2 linked regions of the Homo sapiens genome follow. The protein of the gene in region 1 purifies or fractionates together with the protein of each later gene. This does not show direct contact. Each region holds a gene or a part of one and is shown on either strand. Other genes may lie near its edges.

Evidence for each region. The genes of interacting proteins can lie anywhere in the genome.
Region 2: the proteins of DEFB118 (region 1) and THOP1 purify together in Homo sapiens (affinity purification with mass spectrometry; one large-scale study listed by BioGRID and IntAct). This does not show direct contact.

What each region holds. Positions count from the first base shown.
Region 1 is NC_000020.11:31,367,118-31,371,400, reverse strand, and holds the start of DEFB118 (defensin beta 118 precursor), read right to left. Parts: upstream 2,801-4,283; 5' UTR 2,751-2,800; coding exon 2,693-2,750; intron 1-2,692. UniProt on the Homo sapiens protein: Host defense peptide that exhibits antimicrobial activity against both Gram-negative bacteria, such as E.coli and S.typhimurium, and Gram-positive bacteria, such as S.aureus and B.subtilis. Inhibits cell adhesion of E.coli on intestinal epithelial enterocytes.
Region 2 is NC_000019.10:2,792,003-2,795,502, forward strand, and holds part of THOP1 (thimet oligopeptidase), read left to right. Parts: intron 1-2,761; coding exon 2,762-2,910; intron 2,911-3,500. UniProt on the Homo sapiens protein: Involved in the metabolism of neuropeptides under 20 amino acid residues long. Involved in cytoplasmic peptide degradation. Able to degrade the amyloid-beta precursor protein and generate amyloidogenic fragments.

The sequences.
Region 1 (4,283 bases):
GAAAATACAAAAAAAAGATAAGCATTATGGAGAGAAACGAAGCAGGGAAGGGGTTTAGGAAGTGTGTGATTAGAAGGGAAATAGTGAAAGACTTCCCTTGAGGTTTGAGAAGGAAGAGAGAGGGCGAGCTACGAGACTAACTGGGGGCAGAGTATATATCAGGCAGAGGAAGCAGCAAGTGCAAAGGCTTAGAGGCAGGACCTGTCTCAAAGGTTCTGAAAAACAATAAGGTAGTTATGGTGAGTATAGAGTAAGTTAAGTGGAGAGTAACTGGAGAAAATATAATGGGAGTTGAGATCACATAGAATCTTGCAGGTCTTTGAAAGAAAGCCATTCAGAACTTTTGATCACAGGATGATGAGAGAAATGCAGATTAAAACAACAGCACGAGGGAGGCTGAGGCGAGTGGATCACTTGAGGTCCGGAGTTTGAAACTAGCCTGGCCAATGTGCTGAAACCCCATCTCTACTAAAAATACAAAAAGTAGCCAGGCTTGGTTGTGCGTGCCTGTAATTCCAGCTACTCGGGAGGCTGAGGCAGGGGAATCGCTTGAACCCCCGAGGCAGAGGTTGCAGCAAGCTGAGATCGCGCCATTGCACACCAGCCTGGGCAACAGAGCGAGACTCTGTTTCAAAACAGAAACAAATACAAAAAAGCAACCACAACAGTAAGAGGTTATTTTATACTCATCAGCTGGGTGTTTGAAGGATTATGGTGATAGAAAAACCCTTGTGTATTTTCGGTGAGAGGGTAGGGAGATATCTCTGTTCCTATAAATGTCACTGATTTCTATTCTTCTTCCCCAAATGTAGGGGCTTTTTAAGATAAAGCATCAAGACTTTATGCTTCTTTCATTATCTTAACTCTTTGCTCCAAGAGGATGGCTCCAATTTATCACTCTTAACACTCAGACTTGAAACCCCAGATCATGTAATATTTCCTTCACTTCCCATATGCTGAGTTTTTATAACTTGTGGATTTCATGTACAAAATCTTTCACATCTGTCTCTTTCCTAGTCTCAATATCTCCACTAGCACTCAAAGCAGACACAATTGCTTTCAAAGTGATCACACAGAATTATTCCTGTTTGTGTCTGGAATTGTAACTGAAGAATTACTAAAAACCCCCAGAGTTGGCAATTTCTGCTGGCAGTGTCCTTTAAGATACACAACTTCTGATTACTGACTTCTGGTTACCCAGAATCCCTTGGGGTAGGAACACAAGCATAGGAAGAGCCAGCAGCAGGAGTTTCATGGTCCCTGGGAAACAGGAGAGGTTTCCCTGTTTCCCTACCCTGAACGCCAGGGTAGACCCAGGCGTTCAGAACGCTGTGTGCAGTGGGAGTCTGAACAAGAGTTATTGGCCTCTCTGCAATGAGGGCAGAGGAATAGAGGAATTAATGGAACAAATATATATTTTTAATTTTCTTGCCCACCCCCACCAGACTTACATTTAACTTGGTTATTTGCCCTCTAGGAATCTATCCTATTTAAGCCCATATCCATATATGTAAATATATTAATGTTTGTACAAGCATATTCATTGATGTCTTGTTCGAAAATTAAGAAATGTCTCAAATGGCTATATATGACTTTATATGGCTTATCCTACAGCAGAACTATACAACTTTACAAACAATAAGGCAGATCTTTAGATGGTGACATGGAAAGATGGCCACAAAATAATAAGTGAAAGAAGAGTGCTGCATAGGGCCGGGTGCGGTGGCTCATGCCTGTAATCCCAGCACTTTGGGAGACCGAGGCGGATGGATCACCCGAGGTCAAGAGTTTGAGACCAGCCTTGCCAACATGGTGAAACCCCATCTCTACTAAAAATACAAAAATTAGTCGGACATGATGGTGCATGCCTGTAATCCCAGCTGCTTGGGAGGCTGAGGCAGGAGAATTGCTTGAACCCAGGAGGCAGAGGTTGCAGTGAGCTGAGATTGCGCCACTGCACTCCAGCCTGGGTGACAGATTGAGATTCCATCTTCAAAAAAAAAAAAAAAAAAAAACACAAGAGTGCTGCATAGCCATGCAGGGAGTGTGCTTACTTCGTTATAAAACAGAAATATTTAGATTCATTTTTATGTAAGTTCGATCATACATTGAAATGCACCTTGAAAAACATAAAGGAGAAACAGGCTCTCTTCACCAGTGATTTCAAAGTTCTGGTCATGCCTTTAGATATACTTAAGAAAGCAGTGATTATGAAAAGCTTAGATTTTCACTGTAGAAGGAAGAAGAAAAGCCAGTTCTGTCTTCCGTGTAACAGCTCTACCAGTGTTTTCTGACTTGTTCACCAAATTCTAGAATATTAGAAAACAAAAAGAACCTCATTATAGCTATAGCAGGACTTTTAGGGCCAAGAAAACATAGCAAAGTGGGCTGCAGGAATCATTTTCAAAAGCTGGCACAATCTGGAAAGAGAACAGATGTGAGCCGAGCTTTCCCCTAGTTTCTTAGGCGGCAACTTGGAATATAGAACCAAGGACAACTCTGGATGGTGGGACTGCCCCTGTCTATTGAGGATAACTTGCTCTACTCCCAGGTTTTACCCCAGCCAGGAGCATAGTCCCAGTGTGGGAACTGTGGAGCTGCCCATGTTGGGGAGTACCGTGACACATTGGAATTTTCATGAGCCAGAACCCACTATACCTCTATTTTTGTATCTTCCCTGACCTCTGATTACCTGGGATCACTTGGGGTAGGAGCACAAGCATAGGAAGAGCCAGCAGCAGGAGTTTCATGGTCCTTGGGAAGCAGGAGGTGGTAGATCCAGGAGTTCAGAATACTGTGTGCAGTGTGAGTCTGAACAAGAGTTTTATTGGCCTCTCTGCAGTGGGGGCAGAGGGATGGGCACAGAACCAGCCGGATATCTAAGAGCTTATCCATGCATAACATCAGTCTAGTGTGTGGCACATAAGCTGAGCATTTGATCCAGGCACTGGGAGGGCATGCAGAGGGTTACAAGTCACAGGTTTTGAGGAGGTGTTTGGAGCAATGGAGAGGGAAGATTCACACTGGGACATCTTCCCTAGCTTTCCCCGATCTCTCATTAGGGCTCAGCCCTTCTTCACAGCCCCTCTCACTCTAGCATAAACCTACTTTTGAATGGTCTACTTATCTGTGTGTCTCCCCGCACCAGCCTGTGAAATTCCTGAGAGTAGGGAACGTGTCTTTCATTTTTGAGCCCCCAAGGCACGAAGCATGCTCTCAGTGAAGGTTTGTGGAAATAAACGATAATGAACACATGTCAATCTATAAGCCAAATCCCTCTCTTACATATGTGCCCAACAGGGAAAATGACTTGCCCAAGAAGTCACTTGCTGCAGAAGTTTGAGGGAGATCATTTATAAGACTCAAAGGGGGATGCTACCCAATGTCATTAAAAAAAAAATTCCCTAGCTGGGTGTGGTGGTGGGTGCCTGTAATCCAAGCTACTCAGGAGGCTGAGTCAGGAGAATCGCTTAAACCCAGGAGGTGGAAGTTGCAGTGAGCTGAGATCGCACCACTGCACTCCAGCCTGGGCAACAGAGTGAGACTCTGTCTCAAAAAAAAAAAAAAAAATCCCTGCTGAAGACAGATCTACAATAATTTGGGATGTTACCTTTGACAACGGCACCATGAGGGTCATCAGAGGTCTGGGAGCTGTCCATGAAGACCCCAACATTTAGACTTGCCTTTGGGATGTGGAACCTCGATGTCACCCCCAGAGTCAGCCTAGGTCCTGCATTGCTTTAGTTGCATTTTCATCGTGTTTCAACTTTTGCTCCCTCTTGTTTACTCGGCTCTAAAAGTCTCTGTAAAGCTTTTACAGAGGAGGTTGCTGATTTTTCTCTTCTGGAATTGATAACTTTCACTGTGAGAATAATTGATGGGAATTAGCAGGGTTGCCATGTGATTGAGGAGACTTCTCTTCTGGATGGAACCATGTGGAAAGCGTAGCATGGTGGTGGGCTATTTTCAAATTAATTTTGTTTTATGTTTTTATTTTTTTGAGACAGGATCTCGCTCTGTAGCCCAGGCTAGGGTGCAGTGGTGCGATCACAGCTCATTGCAGCCTCAAGCTCCTGAGCTCAAGCAATCCTCCCACCTCAGCCTCCTGAGTAGCTGGGACTGCCCAGGTATTCACCACCATGCCCGAATATTTAAAAAAATTTTTTTGGGAGAGACAGGTCTTACTATGTTGCCCAGGCTAGTCTCAAACTCCTGGGTTCAAGTGGTCCTCCCTCCTTGGCCTCCCAAAGTGCTGGAATTACAGGCATGGGCCACTGCACCTG
Region 2 (3,500 bases), on another chromosome or scaffold:
GGCTTCTCTCTGATCACAGATTAAGTCCACTTCGCCCAGGAGCCCTTCCTCCTCCTCCTGTCCCCATGCCAGCTGCCTGGATTAGTCCCTGCACGGTACTGACACTGTCGTCCCTGCGGTCACTTGTCTAATCGGTCGCCCGTAAATCCCGAGAGGACAGAGCTGATTTTCTTTCTGTCTTCAGCCCTAGCGTCAGGCCTGGCCCAGAGCCCCCACTACAGGCTTTTTTGTTGTTTTTTTGAGACAGGGTCTTGCTCTGTCACCCAGGCTGCTGTAGTGCAGTAGTGTGATCATGGCTCACTGCAGCCTCCATCTCCCAGGCTCAAGCCATCTTTAATTTTTGGTAGAGATGAGGTCTTGCTATATTGCCCAGGCTGGTCTAGAACTCCTGAGCTCAAGCTTCCTGCCTGCCTTGGCCTCCAAAAGTGTGGGGATTACAGGCATGAGCCACCGTGCCCAGCCCACCCCCCCTCTAAACACACGGAGCCTCCTCCAGACGTGCGGAGCCTCCTCCAAACATACCGAGGCCTGGGGACATTTCTGTTGACCCAGAACTGAGGTAGTGGCCAGACTGCAATTTGAATTCAGGTCTTTCTGCTGCAAAGTATATGCTTTTTTTTAAAAAAAATTATTATTATTAGGGTTTTTTTTTGTTTGTTTTTTGTTTTTTTAGAATGAGTCTCGCTCTGTCACCCAGGTTGGAGTGCATGGTGCTGTCATGGCTCACTGCAGCCTCAACCTCCCAGGCTCAAGCGATCCTCCTGCCTCAGCCTTCTAAGTAGCTGAGAGCACAAGTGTGTGCCACCGTGCCTGGCTAATTTGTTTTTTTAAACTGCTCCATTGAGATATGATTTGCATAACATACAGTTCACCCATTTAAACCACACACTTCAGGCTGGGTGGCGGCTCACACCTGTCATCCCAGCACTTTGGGAGGCCGAGGTGGGCGGATGACTTGAGGTCAGGAGTTCGAGACCAGCCTGACCAACATCCAGAAACCCTGTCTCTACTAAAAATACAAAATTATCCGGGCGTGGTGGCGCATGCCTGTAATTTCAACTACTCGGGAGACTGAGGCAGGAGAATCACTTGAACCCGGGAGGCGGAGGTGGCGGTGAGCCGAGATCACACCATTGCACTCCAGCCTGGGCAACAGCAGCGAAACTCTGTCTCAAACAAACAAACAAAAAAAAACCCACACACTTCAGTGGTTTTTAATAAATTTGCAGCATTGCTCAGCTGTTACCATTCTTTCATTTTAGAGCATTTTCATAACCCCAGAGAGAAATTTTATACCCTTAAGTGGTCACGCTCCATCTCCCCTGTCCCCAGCCCTGGCACCCACGCGTCCCCTCCTGTCTCTGTGGATGGGCCTGTCCTGGATATTTCGTAGAAATGGCACCACATGGCCGGGTGCAGTGGCTCATGCCTGTAATCCCTGCACATTGGGAGGCCGAGGCAGATGGATCATGAGGTCAGGAGTTCAAGACCAGCCTGGCCAACATAGTGAAACCCCATCTCTACTAAAAATACAAAAATTACCTGGGCGTGGTGGTGGGTACCTGTAATCCCAGCTACTCGGGAGGCCGAGGCAGGAGAATCGCTTGAACCCAGGAGTTGAAGGTTGCAGTGAGCCGAGACTGCACCACTGCACTCCAGCTTGGGCAACAGAGTGACACTTCGTCTCAAAAAAAAACAAATGGCATCACACACTGTGTGACTTTTGTGTCTGGCTTCTTTCTCTGCATGTGACATCATCGGGCTGCATCCACACCGCAGCCTGTTCCAGAGCCTCATTCCTTTTCATGGCTGAGTCGTGTTCCACTGGGCAGAGGCCACATCTTGTCAGTCCATTCACTCGTGGATGGACCTTTTGTCAATTGTGAATCGCGCTGCTGTGAGTGCACGTGTGCAGATTCCTGTGTGGATGTGTGTTCATGTCTCCTGGCTGGATCCTGGCACTGGAGTCTTGGGGGTCATGGGATGACTCCATTTTAAAGCTTTTTTTTTTTTCTTTTTTTTTCTTTTTTGAGATGGAGCCTCACTCTGTCGCCCAGGCTGGAGTGCAGTGGTACCATTTCAACTCGCTGCAACCTCCACCTCCCGGGTTCAAGCTATTCCCCTACCTCAGCCTCCCAAGTAGTTGGAATTACAGGCACGCGCCACCACGCCTGGCTAATTTTTGTATTTTTAGTAGAGATGGGGTTTCACCTTGTTGGCCAGGCTGGTCTCGGACTCCTGACCTCAAGTGATCTGCCTGCCTCGGCCTCCCAAAGGGCTGGGATTACAGGCTTGGCCACCACACCTGGCCTAAAGCTTATGCTTTTCTAGCCACTGACACTTCCTCTACTCAACCTAAAGCACAGATGTGCTCAGGAAATTGTAAGTAGTTTATGCATTTAAATGTGACCATCGGCAGCTGCAGCTCTCTCTGGAATGGAATTCCGTCAGCCTCTGTTTCGTCGTACCCAGCTCTGTTGGGTCCTCCTTGGCTTGGAGGGCTTTGAGTTGAATCCTTATTTTTCTTCGGTCTGTAAGATCTCCAAGGACACAGGCAACAGCACCTCCTTTCTCCATCCCAGGGCCCAGCCTGGAGGGGACGGTGGCGTGTGCCTCTAGTCCCAGCTACTTGGGAGGCTGAGGCAGGAGAGAGTTCACGGGGGGATTCAGCAGACAGGCCTGGGAGAGGGGTCCGGGCAACACCTGCCAGTTGTACTGGGGCCTGTTCTCACACCTGTCTCCCTGGTCTCCCCTGTTTTAGTTCAGAGGAATATCCTTGACTTCCCCCAGCATGTTTCCCCCTCCAAGGACATCCGGACAGCCAGCACAGAGGCCGACAAGAAGCTCTCTGAGTTCGACGTGGAGATGAGCATGAGGGAGGACGTGTACCAGAGGATCGTGTGGCTCCAGGTGAGGGGGCCCTGCGGGGAGTGCAAATAGCCTCCCAAGTAACTAGGATTACAGGCGCCCGCCACCACACCCGGCTAATTTTTGTATTTTTAGTAGAGACGGGGTTTCAACGTGTTGGTCAGGCTAGTCTCGAACTCCTGACCTCAAGTGATCCGCCCACCTCGGCCTCCCACAGTGCTGGGATGACAGGTGTGAGCCACTGTGCCCGGCCCATTTTTTGTATTTTTAGTAGGCACAGGGTTTTGCCATGTTGGTCAGGCTGTTCTCAAACTCCTGACCTCAGGTGATCCGCCCGCCTTGGCCTCCCAAAGTGCTGGGATCACAGGCCTGAGCCACCACGCCCGGCCACACATGTGCACTTTCATTTCCTTTCCTGGCCATCCTAGTGTGACCCAAACACCCCATCCCCACATGGCGTGAGCTGGCAGGGCCTGGCGGCATGGCTGCGTGGGCTCCTGCTCCCCCGGATGCTCCTCGCAGTATGCAGTGGGGCCTTTGCTGTTGATGTCACATGATCAGGAGAGACCCAGAGACCCTCCTGCTGCTGTTCATCCTCTTAGGCGAGGACCCCTGGGAATGTGCTGATGTGT